2 separate regions of the Homo sapiens genome follow, and region 1 is linked to region 2. Evidence: fine-mapped expression QTL. Tissue or cell type: whole blood. Region 2 holds a variant in brackets; the other region holds the start of a gene. All regions are shown on one strand. Distances are between the middles of the regions.

Evidence for each region. PIP is the estimated chance that this variant, and not a neighbour inherited with it, causes the effect.
Region 1: it holds the start of LIMK1, and the variant in region 2 is fine-mapped to the expression of LIMK1 in whole blood (INTERVAL, PIP above 0.99).

What each region holds. Positions count from the first base shown.
Region 1 is chr7:74,079,667-74,087,766 of GRCh38, reverse strand. It overlaps LIMK1 (LIM domain kinase 1), which reads right to left and starts at 3,963. Exons shown (of 16, transcript NM_002314.4): 1 at 3,722-3,963; 2 at 1,923-2,019. The coding sequence starts at 3,776. RefSeq lists enhancers at 1,441-2,038, 2,039-2,638, 3,150-3,419, 3,906-4,584, 4,480-4,589 and 1 more and silencers at 3,610-3,659, 3,770-3,819, 3,940-4,209.
Region 2 is chr7:74,144,032-74,152,131 of GRCh38, reverse strand. No RefSeq gene overlaps it. Among named protein-coding and RNA genes, the nearest start is that of EIF4H, 26 kb to the left of the region's middle. The variant C/T (reference allele first, on the strand shown) is at 4,077.

The sequences.
Region 1 (8,100 bases), 64 kb after region 2:
AATACAAAACTTAGCCGGGCGTGGTGGTGCACACCTGTAATCCCAGCTACTTGGGAGGCTGAAGCAGGAGAATCGCTTGAACCTGGGAGGCGGAGGTTGCAGTGAGGAGGGATCGCGCCACTGCTCCCCAGCCTGGGCGACACAACAAGACTGTCTCAAAAAAACCAAAAACCAAAAAATAAACCAAGGCAGAAGCCTAAAATAAAGTCCTAGTGGTGGATGTCTTGACCCCTGCTGGGCATCCCAGAAGCTTCACCTTCTACCCTTTTATGGAGTTTTCTCCCCTGAACCTTGCTGTTTGGTGACTATGCCTGTAATTCTCTCCCACACCATTTGTTTTTCTTTCTTTCTTTTTTAAAAATTGAGACTGGGTCTCGCTCTATTGCCCAGGCTAGAGTGCAGTGGTGCGATCATAGCTCACTGCAGCCTCCACCTCCCAGGCTCAAGTAACCCTGCCACCTCAGCCTCTTGAGTAGCTGGGACTACAGGCATGCGCCACCACGCCCGGCTAATTTTTTGTATTTTCAGTGGAGACAGGGTGTTGCCATATTGCCCAGGCTTGTCTCGAACTCCTGAACTCAAGTGATCTGCCCACCTCAGCCCCAAAAAGTGATGGGATTATAGGTGTGAGCCACCACGCCCCACCTCCACTCTACTTTTCTACCCAGGAAATCTCACATCCTTTGAGACCCCTGCTCTGGCCCTGCTCTGGCTCAAGGCAGGTAGACCCCTGCTCCTGGCTTCTCAGGATGGTCCTACTGGGTGACCTTCAGGTCCTCATGTACTCTTTATCCTCCGCCACAACCCTGACCCTACTTTCTTCCTACCTGTGGGTGTGTGTCTGGACACTGGGGCTGGTGTGACTGGGTTATGCATGTTCGCAAGCAGCCTGGAAGACACTGAGGGTGGCCTGGTTTCCCTTAAGGCCTGGTTTGTCTTCCCTCCCTGCAAGAGCATGAACACCCAGAAGGCAGGAGGGACATTCCTTCCAACTCTTCCCCCTGTCTGGGTGCCAGCAGGGGGCTGAATTGCAGGCACTGGCTCAATTGGAGGTCTCTCCCATCCTCTCTAAGATTTAGATCTCAGAGATCTAGGATGACAACAGAGGCCAAGGCGTTAGCTCACGCCTGTAAGCCTAGCACTTTCGGAGGCCAAGGCAGGAGGATTGCTTGAGGTCACAAGTTCAAGACCAGCCTGGGTCTCAATAGTGAGACCCTGTCTTTACACAAAATTTAAAAAATTAGCTGAGCATTGTGGTGTATACCTATAATCCCAGCTACTCGGGAGGCTGAAGTAGGAGGATCACTTTAGCCCGGGAGATGGAGGTTGCAATGAGCCGAGATGGCACCACTGCACTCCAGCCTGGGCAACAGAGCAAGACCATTTCGAAAAAAGAAAAATACATAAAAGAAAATAAAATGAGGCCAGGAGCGGTGGTTTATGTCTGTCATCCCAGCACTTTGGGAGGCTGAGGTGGGAAGATCACTTGAGGTCAGAAGTTTCAGACCAGCCTGGCTAACATGGCAAAACCCGTCTCTACTAAAAATACAAAAATTAGCTGGGCGTGGTGGTGCACGCCTGTAATCCCAGCTACTCCAGAGGCTGACACAGGAGAACTGCGTGAGCCCAGGAGGAAGAGGTTGCAATGAGCCAAGATCGCACCACTGTACTCCAGCCTGGGTGACAGAGCGAGACTCCGTCTCAAAAAGAAAAAAAAATAGATAAATAAAATGACAACAGGAAGGCCTGTAGGGATTTTCTAGTCAAAACACCTCATGTCATAAATGGTAAATTAAGGCCACGAAGTCACAATAGGGGACGGCACCAGGAGGCATATCCCGGCCTCCCCCATTCCTTGACCAGCCTGTCCTCTCTGGCAGGCCTTGTTTAGGGCAACACAGGCCCTGGGCACCCCACCCTACCTGAAGCAGTCTGCGTGCCAGTCCGCGTTCAGGGCCTGGAGGTACTGGCCATCATAGATCCTCTGGCCGCAGCTTGCACACACGGGCAACTCGCTTCCTGCAGGGTGGGAAGGGAGTTGGGAAGCATTCTCAGGAAGTGTGATCTGGTGCAGGCCCAGCTTGCCCTGCCCACCCCACATATACCTACACCTGCACCAATCCTCGCACACTGCACATGTGCAGCGCCCAGGCAGGGCAGTCGCTGTGCCAAATAGGAGAAGAAAGGGCGCTGGCCTGAGTCTTGCTGAGATACTGACTAGGTTGCCAAGCTTCTCTGGCCCTGTTTCCCTATGTATCAGCTTAGGAGGAGGATCAGGTCCATCCTCCCGCTATAGCATTGGATCTGGCAAGGTAAATGAGGAGAAAGGAAGCAGTGGCTTTAGGGATAAGGCAGTGGGTGACATTCCTATCACAGCCTCCTTTCTTCCCTCTCCTGCCCAGGAAGAAGTACTAAGAGGGCCCTTCAAAGGCAGGGACTGGACAGGGCTGGATTAGTGCATCCTGGGCTGAAGCCAGCTGGGAGGTCAAGGGCAGGAAGCCTGGAGGTGCCGGCCCTAACAGATCCTTGGCAATGAATGCCCTGGCTTGGCAAGGGGAGGGGGCTGCAGACCTGGGTACTCCCAGACACCTGTCCCAGGGAGGCCTGGCACCTCCTCTAGCCAGCCACAGGCATGCTTAGTCATCCTTGGGGCCTGGCACCCTTGGAGCTGGTGGGCCCTGGAAAATGCCCCAGACCTGCCCCTCTCCACTGTACAGAAGGGGAGACTGAGCCCCAGAGATGGCATGGCTTGCCCAGTCACATAGCTAGGTCCCAAGGCCACAACAGCCTGACCCTCTGTGAAGACGCAGGTACCTTAGGTAGGCAGGGGCTACAGGAAGGTGGGCCCCTACCCCAATCAGGTTTTCATGGGCCTGGGAAGAGTTGGTGGCAGGGGGAGGTGTGGAGTCAGGCCCTGCCTTGGGGCCAGGTGGATCTAAGTGACAGGTCAGCGAAGGAGATCCAAGGAGGGGCCCCCAGACCCTGTCCTAGGCTGGGGGAGTCCTTGAACCCTAACTGCAGTGCAGTACTGCGCCTTGGGCCCCAGTGAGGGAGAAGGGGCTAAAGAGGAGGTTAGGATGAGTCATGCTCCCAGCCAAGACTGAGGGCAGGCACCGGGTTTGGGGCACGGACAGGGAGAGTGGATGAGGCTCCCGCAGTACACGGCCTCCGGCTTCCTGGACGCCTATCTCCGCTCTACCCATCTGGCCCCCAATCACCGACACCGGGGGGGCAACTACCCAGTTTCCAAATGTACAGAAGGGGAAACTGAGGACCAGGAAGTCAGCGCCTGGCTCAAGGTCACAGAGCCGGGCAGGCGCCCGGCGGCCACTGGGACCCGGGGCTGCGGCTTCCCCAGCCGCTCTTTCTTCCGAGACTGGATAAAGGGTGGCCCCAGGGCGAGGCCCGGGTGGTGGACAGAGCACGCGGATGGAGGCCGACGCGGGGTGGGCAGTGTCTGGGAGTCCTTCGCGGGGGGACGTGGGAGGAGGAAAAAGGGTCCAGGGGCCCCCAGACCCGCAGGAGGGCAGCTCGCCGGGGGCCGGGGAGGGGGATCCCGGGCGGGAGGGGGACAGGGAGGGGCCTGCGGGCTTCGTAAGGACGAGCTCATCCCGGAGGAGGCAGGGGCGCGGCCTCCTGGCAGACCCGGCCCCCTCCCGTGCCCCACGCTGCCCCGGGCACCCCCTCCAGGCCCTCGCCCCACACCCCGCGGCCCGCGCACCTTCCTCTCCCATACGTTCTTCCCTCCAGGTGCAACAAAGTAGCGTCAACCTCATGCACTCGACGGGGGGCGGGGCCCGGCGGGGCTGGGGCTGGGGGCGGCCGGGCCCGCGAGCTCGCCCACCGCCGCCGGCCCGGGGAGGCGGGGGCGGAGGGCGCGGGCCGGGCCGGGCCGGGCCGGGGGCGCCTCTCGGACACCGGCGGGGAAACCGGCTCGGCGCCGCGGCGGCTTGGGGAGCGAGCGGAGGGGCGGACCGAGGCGGGGCCTGTGAGCTGCGGCACGGGGGCGGGGCGCGGGCGGCCGGCGGCGGGAACGGCCCTGCGCGGCCCCGCCCCCACCAGAAAACCCCGCCCCCACGCCCAAGGCCACGCCTCTAGAGGCCACGCCCCGCTGCGGCCCGGCCTGGGGGCGCCGCGAGCTGGCGCGGCGCGCCCCGCCCCTCCCCGCCCCTTCCGCCCTTCATTCATTCTTCTTTCTCCCAGCGACAGGCCTCGGCTGGGAGCTGCGAGGCCCAGCTGTCTCGGAGGGCCGCTAGCTCTGCTGGGGCAGGCCAGGAGGATGTAGGAGCCTAGAGAAGGGGCCTCCGCTTCCCTGCGCGAGGCCCCCACAGACCCAAACCAGCTGCAGCCGGGAACTCGGATCAGAGCTGGAGAGGCCCTGTGGACCCCCAGGACACTGGTGGTCGCCTTGGGGAGGGGAGGGAGGCGGGCCGGGTTTTGTCCCTCTCTCTGAGGCCTGCATTGAGGCCAGGCTGGGCCCGGGGAAGGTGACGGTCCGCGTCTCAGGCCTCGCGAATGAGCAGCACCAGAGAAAGGAGCGAGCCCCTGCCAGGCGGTGACAGGTGTACTCTTCTCAGTGCCGATTACCTGGAGCTGGGGCTGCCCTGCCCAGGGTCCTGGAGGGAGCACGGGTTTGGGCTGAGTCAAGCGTCCAAAGGAATTGGGTGGTCCAGTCCAGCACTGATGGTGGAACGCCCTGCCTAGATGTGGACAATTCTAGAATGCTGGACATGGGCAGGAAGCAACCCTGTCCCCCCTAGGTCTACCTTCCACGTCATCCCTCTGCCCAGGAAGCAGTGACCGGAGTGGAGCCACGTGCCCACGTGAACCCAGTGAACAAGAGGCAGCGCTAGCCCAGCTCCAACTCTAGTCATCATGTTTGTGGGGAGAGGTCTAGGCACGTCTGCAAAGTGGGGGGCACTCACCCCTGGGTGCAAAACAATTACGTGGGGTGGGAAGAAAATACTAGATTTTTTTTTTCTTTTTTTAGATTCGGTCTCGCTCTGTTGCCTAGGCTGGAGTGCAGTGGCGGGATCTCGGCTCACCGCAGTCTCCACCTCCCAGGTTCAAGCAATTCTCCCACCTTAGCCTCCCGAGTAGCTGATATTACAGGCGTGCACCACCATGACCGACTAATTTTTGTATTTTTAGTAGAGATGAGGTTTCACCATGTTGACCAGGCTGGTCCTGAACTCCTGACCTCAGGTGATCCACCCTCCTCGGCTTCCCAAAGTGCTGGGATTACAGGTGTGAGCCACCACGCCTGGCCAGAATTTTTAATTTCTCATGAGAAAGAAGGCTGGGCACAGTGGCTCACACCTATAATCCCAGCACTTTGGGAGGCCAAGGTGGGAGCATCACGTGGGGCCAGGAATTGGAGATCAGCTTAAGCAATGAAGTGAAACCCTGTCTCTTCTAACTTTTTTTTTTTTTGAAATGGAGTTTCACTCTTGTTGCCCAGGCTGGAGTGCAATGGTGCGATCTCAGCTCACAGCAACCTCCACCTCCCGGGTTCAAGCCATTCTCCTGCCTCAGCCTCTGGAATAGCTGGGATTATAGGCATGCACCACCATACCTGGCTAATTTTGTATTTTTAATAGAGACGGGGTTTCTCCATGTTGGTCAGGCTGGTCTCGAATTCTGGACCTCAGGTGATCCACCCACCTTGGCCTCCCAAAGTGCTGGGATTACAGGCGTGAGCCACCGCGCCCAGACTTTTTTTTTTTTTTTTAATTAGCCAGGCATGGTGGCTCATGCCTGTAGTTAGTTACTTGGGAGGCTGAGGTGGGAGGATACTTGACCTCAGGAGGTTGAGGCTGCAGTGAGCTATGATTGCACCATTGCACTCTAGCCTGGGTGACAGAGACCCTGTCAAAAAAGATAGGGAGGGAAAAAAAGGGGAAGGAAAGAGAGGGGAATGAGAGCCTTGTAACTTGGCTGTAGGGCATATACCAGGCAGGACCCTGGCTGGAAACAGAAAGTGCCACTTAGTGGGGCTAACTGGGGAGAGTTTGATAAAGGGGATGTTTGCAATGCACTGGGGAGGGGGGATTAAAGGAGATCAGTAAGGACTGGCACAGTTGGAGGGGTGGCAGCAGTTACCAGCCCAGGGTAAGGGGGCATAGAGGGGGTCCCTGGAGGAGAGGCCTGCCTGAGAGGAGCTGTGCAAGAGGGGTCCCCAGTTCTGGGGGACTCATGGGGAAGAGGGCCCAGAAGGGCTATTCTGATCTGACTCCCCTGCTCTTCTTATTCTTCCATTGCCTCCCGTTAACCAATCCCGTCTGGATGCAGCGGGCAGGGCCATGTTGATGCTGTGCCCACAGTGCAGGGCAGAGAAGTGCATAGTGGCCTGGAGGGGCTGTGAGCCTGAGCCAGCTTGGTTGAGTGATGTTATCCAGTTTTGACTAAATTAACCCTCACAGAATGGACTCATAGTTGAAAACAATTCCTGCAAAGAAAGCACAGATTGGGCCTGGCGTGGTGGCTCACACCTGTAATCCCAGCACTTTGAGAGGCTGAGGCGGGTGGATCGTGAGGTCAGGAGATCGAGACCATCCTGGCCAACATGGTGAAACCCCGTCTCTACTAAAAATACAAAAATTAGCTGGGCATGGTGGTACGTGCCTGCAATCCCAGCTACTTGGGAGGCTGAGGCAGGAAAATCGCTTGAACCAGGGAGTTGGAGGTTGCGGTGAGCCGAGATTGCGCCACTGCACCCCAGCCTGGTGACAGAGCAAGACTCCATCTCAAAAAAAAAAAAAGAAAGCACAGATTGAAGATGATGCAGACTGGGTGCAGTGGCTTATACCTGTAATCCCAGCACTTTGGGAGGCTGAACTGGGAGGATCGCTTGAGGTCAGGAGTTCAAGACCAGCCTGGGCAACATAGTGAGACCCCCTCACATCTCTTCGGAAAAAAAAAAATTATCTGGGAGTGGTGGTGTGCACCTGTAGTCACAGCTACTCAGGAGGCTGAGACGGGAGGATCGCTTGAGTCCAGGATTTGGAGGCTCTAGTGAGCTCTGATCATGCCATTGTACAGCCTGTCTCAAACAAATAAACAAAAAAAAAAAAAAAGAAGATGCTAACACACCCAGATGAGCGAAAAGATGGAGCTGGCACTTCCACACCTTGTAGGAGCTCCTTGTCAGCCACAGTTCCAGGTGAAACATCAGATCTGACATATTCAGTTACATTGCTCATGCAAGATTTTTTTTGCTGAAAGCAAAAAGGATTTTTGCTTTTTATTTATATTTATTTATTTATTTATTTATTTTGAGATGGAGGTTTGCTCTTCTTTCCCAGGCTGGAGTGCAGTGGCACGATCCCAGCTCATTGCAATCTCCACCTCCTGGGTTCAAGCAATTCTCCTGCCTCAGCCTCCCAAGTAGCTGGGATTACAGGTGTGCACCACCATGCCTGGCTAATTTTTTGTATTTTTAGTAGAGATGGGGTTTCACCAGGTTGGCCAGACTGGTCTCGAACTCCTGACCTCAGGCGATTCGCCCACCTAGGCCTCCCAAAGTGCTGGGATTATAGATGTGAGCCATCTCGCCTGGCTGCAAAAAGGATTTTTGGACTTTTTTTTTTTTTTTTTTTTAAGAGAGACAGGGTCTCACTCTGTCACACAGGGTGGAATGCAGTGGCACGATCGTAGCTCACTGCAGCCTCAAACTCCTGAGCTCAAGTGATCCTCCCACCTCAGACTTCTAGGTAGGTGGACCCACAGGCACACACGCCACGTCTGGCTAATTTTTATCTTTTGTAGAGATGGGGGGGGGTCTTACCATGTTGCCCAGGCTAGTCTCGAACTCCTGTGCTCAATTGATCCTTTCCACTTTGTGTTCCCAAAGTGCTGGGATTATAGGCATGAGCCACTGAGTCCGGCCTGATAAAAGTTTTTTGTTTTGTTTTTGTTTTTTTGAGATGGAGTCTCGCCCTGTTGCCCAAGCTGGACTGCAGTGGCGCTAACTCGGCTCACTGCAACCTCTGCCTCCTGGATTCAAGTGATTCTCCTGCCTCAGCCTCCCGAGTAGCTGGGATTACAGGTGCCTGCCACCACGCCTGGCTAATTTTTGTATTTTTAGTAGAGATAGGGTTT
Region 2 (8,100 bases):
GCCAGTGCCTTCTCCATAAAATCAGTCATTGCTGTTTTTGTATTAAAATTTTTTTCTTTTTTTCTTTTTCTTTTTTTTGAGACAGAGTCTCACTCTGTTGCCCAGGCTGGAATGCAGTGGCACGATCTTGGCTCACTGCAACCTCCACCTCCTGGGTTCAAGCAAGTCTCCTGCCTCAGCCTCCCGAATGGCTGGGACTATAGGCGCCCACCACCACGCCCGGCTAATTTTTGTATTTTTAGTAGAGACGGGTTTCGCCATGTTGACCAGGCTGGTCTTGAACTTCTGACCTCAGGTGATCTGCCCACCTCAGCCTCCCAACGTGCTGGGATTATAGGCGTGAGCCACCGTGCCCGGCCTTATTTAAATCAAGCCCCTGCCTTCTCTGTTAGAGAATATCGTGACTGTGATCAAGTATCAAGTACTTGAGCCCCTTCTCCTTTTTTCTCTTTCCTTGTTGATGGCACCAGCTCTCTGCTGGAGAATATCTTTTAGCGTTAAACACAAACAAAGAAACTAAGAACAACAACAACATCAAAAAGTGCAAGGCTGCAGTAAGCCCTGATCACACTGCTGCACTCCAGCCTGGGCGACAGAGCGAGACTGTGTCTCAAAAAAAAAAAAAATTCTTTTTATTTTCTGAGACAGGGTCTCGCTCTGTCGCCCAGGCTGGAGTGCAGTGGTGCGAGCCTGGCTCAGCCCATGGGGATGGTGGTGAGCTCCTCCATTTATTTATTTATCTGGAGTCTCACTCTGCCACCAAGGCTGGAGTGCAGCAGTGCAATCACAGCTCACTGCAGCGTCAAATTCCTGGGTTCAAGTGATGCTCACACCTCAGCCTCCCAAGTAGGTGGGACTACAGGCACACCCCACCATGCCCAGCTAATTTGTAAAAACTTTTCTGTAGAGATGGGGGATGGTCTCATAATGTTGCCCAGGCTGGTCTTGAACTCCTGGCCTCAAATGATTCTCCTGCCTCAGCCTCCCAAAGTGCTGGAATTACAGGCATGAACCACTGTGCTCTGCTGGATAATGACCTTTCTCGAGCAATTACTATGTGCTCTGCTGTATCGGGTACCATCTAGTTTGATCATATATTAGACATGCAAGATAAGCTTTATCCGCTCCCTCCCCCTTTTTTTTTTTTTTTTTTGAGACGAAGTTTCACTCTTGTTGCCCAGGCTGCAGTGCAATGGCACGATCTCAGCTCACTGCAGTCTCTGCCTCCTGGGTTCAGGAGATTCTCCTGCTTCAGCCTCCTGAATAGCTGGGATTATAGGCGCCTGCCATCACGCCCAACTAATTTTTTGTATTTTTAGTAGAGATGGGTTTCACCACGTTGGCCAGGCTGGTCTTGAACCAGCCTCAGCCTCCCGTGATCCACTGGCCTCGGCCTCCCAAAGTGCTGGGATTGCAGGTGTGAGCCACTTTGCCCAGCCAGCTTTCTCCCTCTTTTATGCTGACCACGAAGTGTCTGCCAAGAGTCATTCGTGCATTCCTCATTCATGCACTCAGTATCTTCTATGGGCCATGAAACTGTGTTAGACGTTGGGGAAACAAAAGTCTAAGACTTAGCCAGGGCCGGGCGTGCTGGCTCACACCTGTAATCCCAGCACTTTGGGAGGCCAAGACGGGCGGATCACAAGGTCGGGAGATCAAGACCAACCTGGCTAACATGGTGAAACCCTGTCTGTACTAAAAATACAAAAAATTGGCCGGGCGCGGTGGCTCACGCCTGTAATCCCAGCACTTTGGGAGGCCGAGGCGGGTGGATCACGAGGTCAAGAGATCGAGACCATCCTGGCCAACATGGTGAAACCCCATCTCTACTAAAAATACAAAAAATTAGTCGGGTGTGGTAGTGGGCACCTGTAGTCCCAGCAGCTACTCTGGAGGCTGAGGCAGGAGAATGGCGTGAACCTGGGAGGCGGAGCTTGCAGTGAGCCGAGATCACGCCACTGCACTCCAGCCTGGGTGACAGAGCGAGACTCCGTCTCAAAAAAAAAAAAAAAAAAAAAGACTTAGCCAGGCATGGTGGTGCGCATCTGTAGTCCCAGCTATGTGGGAGGCTGAGGCGGGAGGATGGCTTGAGCCCGGGGGTGCCAAGACTACAGTGAGCTAAGATTGTGCCACTGTACTCCAGCCTGGGTGACAGAGCGAGACCCTGTCTCAAACAAAACAAAATGAGAAAAAATGTCTAAGACACAAAGAATTGAATCAACACTGGGAAAGTGGGTTGTGAGTTATTTTCCAAGCACATAGGAGCCAATCTATACCCCACCCCAATTCTGGCCCAAACTCCATCCAGATTTTGTTGTTCTCCAGGGGGCTATATCAGAATTTTGGCAGAGAAAGAAGGGCTATGAAACATGTACTGAAAAACCTCTCCATATGTTTCTGATTTGTCAGGCAGGGAGAACCAGAAAACCTTCCTATTGAAACTCTTTGAAATGTTTAATACAATTAAAAAAAATTATTTTCAATGCCCAGTTGAGCTCCCATGAAAGAAAGGGAAATCCTAGGAATCCAGAAACAAAGAGGAAACTAAACGCCACAGATGATAGGCAATGAATTGATCACGTCTCTGCTCTGAATGGTCACTGAGGGTCAGTGGCCAGGAGCTTGCTTTAATGCCCGTGTCAGGTCAGGAGATGAGGCCCTAGGCTAGAGTTACTAGATAAAATAGGACATTATAGGATGTATGCACTTTTTTTTTTTTTTTTTGCAAAATATGGCTAATTTAAAAAAAAATTAAAGCAATATGGAGTAAATTAAGCTAAGGGCCCCCATGCGCATTAGAAGGATGGGGTGGAGATAGGAGAAATTCACACCTTATGTAAATGAAATGCCCAGCCCTCATTGGTTTCTTATAAAAGCTTTTGCATTCAACTGTAAAAATGGCCTCTTTTGGCTGGGCACGGTGGCTCATGCCTGTAATCCCAGTACTTTGGGAGGCCGAGGTGGGTGGATCTCCTGAGGAGAGTTCGACACTAGCCTGACCAACATGGAGAAACCCCGTCTCTACTGAAAATACAACATTAACTGGGTGTGGTGGTGCATGCCTATAATCCCAGCTACTCAGGAGGCTGAGGCAGGAGAATCACTTGAACCCGGGAGGTGGAGGTTGTGGTGAGCCGAGATCATGCCATTGCACTCCAGCCTGGGCAACAAGAGTGAAACTCTGTCTCAAATAAATAAATAAATAATAATGGCCTCTTTCAGACCCCCTCTCCACGGCAGAGAGCTTTCTTCTTTAGCTTATTAAACTTTCACTCCAGCCTCATCCTTGGTGCCCATGCTCCTTAATTTTCATGGTTGTGAGACAAAGAACTCCGAGTGATACTTCAGACAATGAGAGACTACTACATTGAGGTCCAGTTCAAATGGAAATTGTATCTGGACCCAGTTCAAATGGAAATTGTGCCTGAGATCCCTTTGAAATGTGATCCTTGAAAAGCCACACAGTCTGTGAAAGGGTAGACTGGAGATCATGAGTTCATCTACCTTGAGGAGTGACAAACTTGCCTGCCTCAGCCTGATAATTCAAAGAATTCAAAGCCCTGACCTGGCTTCACATATGTGTGGGTTTCCAGATCATTCCACAGAAATAGTTCAGCCACCTGCAAGCCCCCAAGTCAGAAATAAAGATATTCTTTTTTTTTTTTTTTTAATTGTTGTTGTTGTTTTGAGACAGGGTCTCACTCTGCCACCCAGGCTGGAGTGTGGCAGAACAATCTCGTCTCACTGCAGCCTCAACCTTGTGGGTTCAAGTGATCCTCCCACCTCTGCCTTCCAAAGTTCTGGGATTACAGGAGTGATCCCCCAAGACTGGCCATTATTCTTATTTTTTAAATAGAGATAGGATCTCACTTTGTTCCCCAGGCGGGTCTCAAACTCCTGACCTCAAGCATTCCTCCTGCCTTAGCTTGCCAAAGTTCTGGGATTTCAGGTGTAAGCCACTGCACCTGGCCAAGATATTCCTAAGGAAGAAAAGAAAGTGAGGAGTGGGAGAATTCCCCGAATCTATGCCCCCAGGCTGCAAGGGATTCTCAGACAATAAAATGAAAAACAGGCCG[C/T]GGGTGGTGGCTCATACCTGTAATCCCAGCACTTTGGGAGGCCGAGGCTGGCGGATCACAAGGTCAAGAGATCGAGACCATCCTGGCTAACACGGTGGAACCCGTGGGCAACAGAGCGAGACTCCGTCTCAAAAAAAAAGAAAAGAAAAACAAAAGCAAATGAAGAGTTTATGGTTAAGCAATGTCATACAAAATGTCGCCCAGGCTGGAATGCAATGGTGCGATCTCGGCTCACCGCAACCTCTGTCTCCTGGGTTCAAGAGATTCTCCTACCTCATCCTCCCAAGTAGCTGGGATTACAGGCATGCGCCACTGCACCTGGCTAATTTTGTATTTTTAGTAGAGACGGGATTTCTCCATGTTGTTCAGGCTGGTCTTGAACTCCTGACTTCAGGCAATCCACCTGCCTCGGCCTCCCAAAGTGCTGGGATTACAGGCGTGAGCCACTGTGCCTGGGCAGTCAACAATAATTTATTATGCAATTAAAAATAACTAGAAGAGCATAATTGGAATGTTTGTAACAAAGAAATGATAAATGTTTGAGATGATGGATACCCCATTTACTCTGATGTGATTATGATGCATTGTATGCCTGTATCAAAATATCTCATGTACCTCATAAATACATATACCTACCACATATCCATAAAAATTAAAAAAAGAGGCCGGGTATGGTGGCTCATGCCTATAATCCCAGCACTTTGGGAGGCCGAGGCGGGTGGATATCTTGAGGTCAGGAGTACAAGACCAGGCTGGGCAACATGGCAAAACCCCGACTCTACTAAAACTAATAATAAAAAAATTATCTGGGCGTGGTGGCACACACCTGTAATCCCAGCTACTTGAGAGACTGAGACATGAGAATTGCTTGAACCTGAGAGGCAGAGGTTGCAGTGAGCCGAGATAGCTCCACTGGACTCCAGCCTGGGCGACAGAGCGAGACTCTGTCTCAAATAAAATAAAATAAAATAAAATAAAATAAAACAAAATAAAGCTGAGCATGGTGGCTCATACCTGTGGGAGGCTGAGGTGAGCAGATCTCCTGAGGTCAGGAGTTCGAGACCTGCCTGGTCAACATGGTGAAACCCCATCTCTACTAAAAATACAAACAATTAGGCGTGTGGCGCATGTCTATAGTCCCAGCTACTTGGGAGGCTGAGGCAGGAGAATTGCTCGTACCCGGGAGCCAGAGGTTGCAGTGAGCCGAGATCATGCCATTGCCCTCCAGCCTGGGCAACAAGAGCGAAACTCCATCTCAAAAAAAAAAAAAAAAAGAAAAGAAAAAAAGAGGCCAGGTGTGGTGGCTCACACCTGTAATCCCAAACTCTGGGAGGCTGAGGCAGGTGGATCACTTGAAGTCGAGGGTTCCAGACCAGCCTGGCCAACATGGTGGTGAAACCCCATCTCTACTAAAATACAAAAATTAGTTGGGTGTGGTGGCGGGCGCCTGTAATCCCAGCTACTCGGGAGGCTGAGGCAGGAGAATCGCTTGAACCTGGGAGGTAGAGGTTGCAGTGAGCCAAGATCATGCTACTGCACTCCAGCCTGAGTAATAGAGACAGACTCCATCTCAAAAAAAAAAGAAAAAAGAAAGAAATGTCAACGCCCTTGAGGAAATAATTTAACCTGTGTCCCAACCCCCCTCACAGGTCCTCTTGACCAAGGAAGGCTTAGTGTGTCAAGGTGTTTACGGAAACCTTCTGACCAAACAGTGGCTGGGCACTAAGCAATGCTGATTCAGAGATGGACCCCTAGGAAGCCAGTCTTGAAAATAAAAGCAAGAATCACAAAACAAAACAGAGGCTTCCTTTAGTGGCTTCAAGTTATTAAACAACCAAACAGACAACCAGCAAACAACAACAATGTCAAAATCTACAACAGCTACCACCAGGACATCAGAATTTAGAATTACAATACATGATTTAAAATGTCCAGTTTTTGCTGGGTGCCATGGCTCACACCTGTAATGCCAGCACTTTGTGGGGCCGAGTCAGGAGAACCACTTGAGCCCAGGAGTTCCAGACCATCCTAGGCAACATAGTGAGACTCTGTCTCTACAAAAAATAAAAATAAAAATAAATTAGCCAAGTGTGGTGGCTGGAGCCTATAGTCCCAGCTGCTCAGGAGGCTGAGACAGGAGGATCACTTGAGCCCAGGAGGTTAAGCTTTCAGGGAGCCAAGATTGCACCACTGCACTCTAGCCTGAGTGACAGAGTGAGTGAGACCTTGTCTCAAAAATAAGTAAAATAAGATAAAATAAAATGTCCAGTTTTCAACAAAAATTTGAGACATATCTCATTTAATCCTCCCAACAGAGGAGTTTCTACCTCTCATTTGGGGAAAATAAGGCTCAGGGAGGTAAAGTAGTGTAAACCAAAGAAAATGACTGGCTGGGCATGGTGGCTCATGCCTGCAATCCCAGCACTTTGGGAGGCTGAGGCAGGAGGAACACTTGAGCCTGGGAGGTGGGAGGTTGCAGTGAGCTGTGATTGTGAAGCAGGATGTTGCCTAAGAACTAGCCAGCTGCTTTGGTGCTGGTAGGGGTGAACTCCACTCACTCACTACTCCACCCCTCACAGGAGAGGGAGCACAGGTGAGCAGGTGCAGGAGACGGGGCGAGAGTTTTTAGGCGCCAGCAAGAGCCATCTCCATACCAGCCCCATGATAGTGTCTAGCGGAGGGTGCCGGAGACTATTGAAGCCCCAGAGGCAGTGTTAGAGTACTCTTTTAGCTCTGCTGTCTGTGAATGGCTTAAGTGTTAACAGCTTAGTGGAGGATCGGTGTGACAGCCTTTTGCATCCACACTCGTGGCACCCAAGTTCTTTTTCAGTGTCCAGGAGGAATTAGGTCACACAAATGAATTGAAGATGGTAAATGCAGGAGACTTTATTGCTGATGAAAGTGGCTCTAAGCGGGAAGGGGAGCTGAAAAGGGGACAGAGCAGGAAGGTAATCTTTCTCTGAAGTCCAGCTGTCCCTGGCCATACTCCTCCAAAGCTACTCCAGCAAACTGTCCCTCTGAAGTCAAGCCACTTCTCTCCAATGTTCAACCATGGTCTTTGACGTCCAGCTGCTTCTCCTCTCTCTGCTAGCTGGGCCTGGGGTTTTTATGGGCACAGGATTGGGGGCAGGGCAGGTCAAGGGTGGTTTTGGAAAAGGCAACATTCAAGCAGGAAAGCAGCGATGTTGGCTGGGCACGGTGGCTCATGCCTGTAATCCCAGCACTTTGGGAGGCAAGGAGGGTGGATCACGAAATCAGGAGTTCAACACCAGCCTGGCCAAGATAGTGAAACCCCTTCTCTAATAAAAATACAAAAATTAGCCGGGTGTGGTGGTGTGTGCCTGTAATCCCGGCTCGGATTACTCGGGAGGCTGAGGCAGGAGAATCACTTGAACCCGGGAGGTGGAGGTTGCAGTGAGCCAAAATCGCACCATTGTACTCCAGCCTGGGTGACAGAAGGGGAGACTCCATCTCAAAAAAAAACCAAAAAACAAAAAACAGGGATGTCAGTTCTCACTTTGGGCTGCAGTTCCAGGTTTTTCAGCTTGAGGGCAATGCCCTCTCTGGGGACCCACCCTCTTCTGCCCAGAATTTCCCTGCCTCTTGTCCCTATCATTTGCACCACTGTACCCTGGCCTGGATGACAGAGTGAGACCCTGTCTCAAAGAAAGGGGAAGGGAAGGGAAGGGAAGAGGAGGGGAGGGGAGAGGAGGGGACTCAATGAATTTAGAGGTTTATTTTGCTAAGGTTGAGGACATGCCCAGGAAAAAGAGACCCAAGCCAAAGAAAAATCTGTGACCCATGGCTTTTCCAGAGAGTTTTGAGGACTTCAATATTTAAAGGAGAAAGAGTGGGCAGGAGGGGAAGGAGGAAAGAAATGAAAAAGGAGGGAAGGTGGCCGGGTGCGGTGGCTCACGCCTGTAATCCCAGCACATTGGGAGGCCGAGGTGGGCAGATCACGAGGTCAGGAGATCGAGACCATCCTGGCTAACACGGAGTGAAACCCCGTCTGTACTAAAAATAC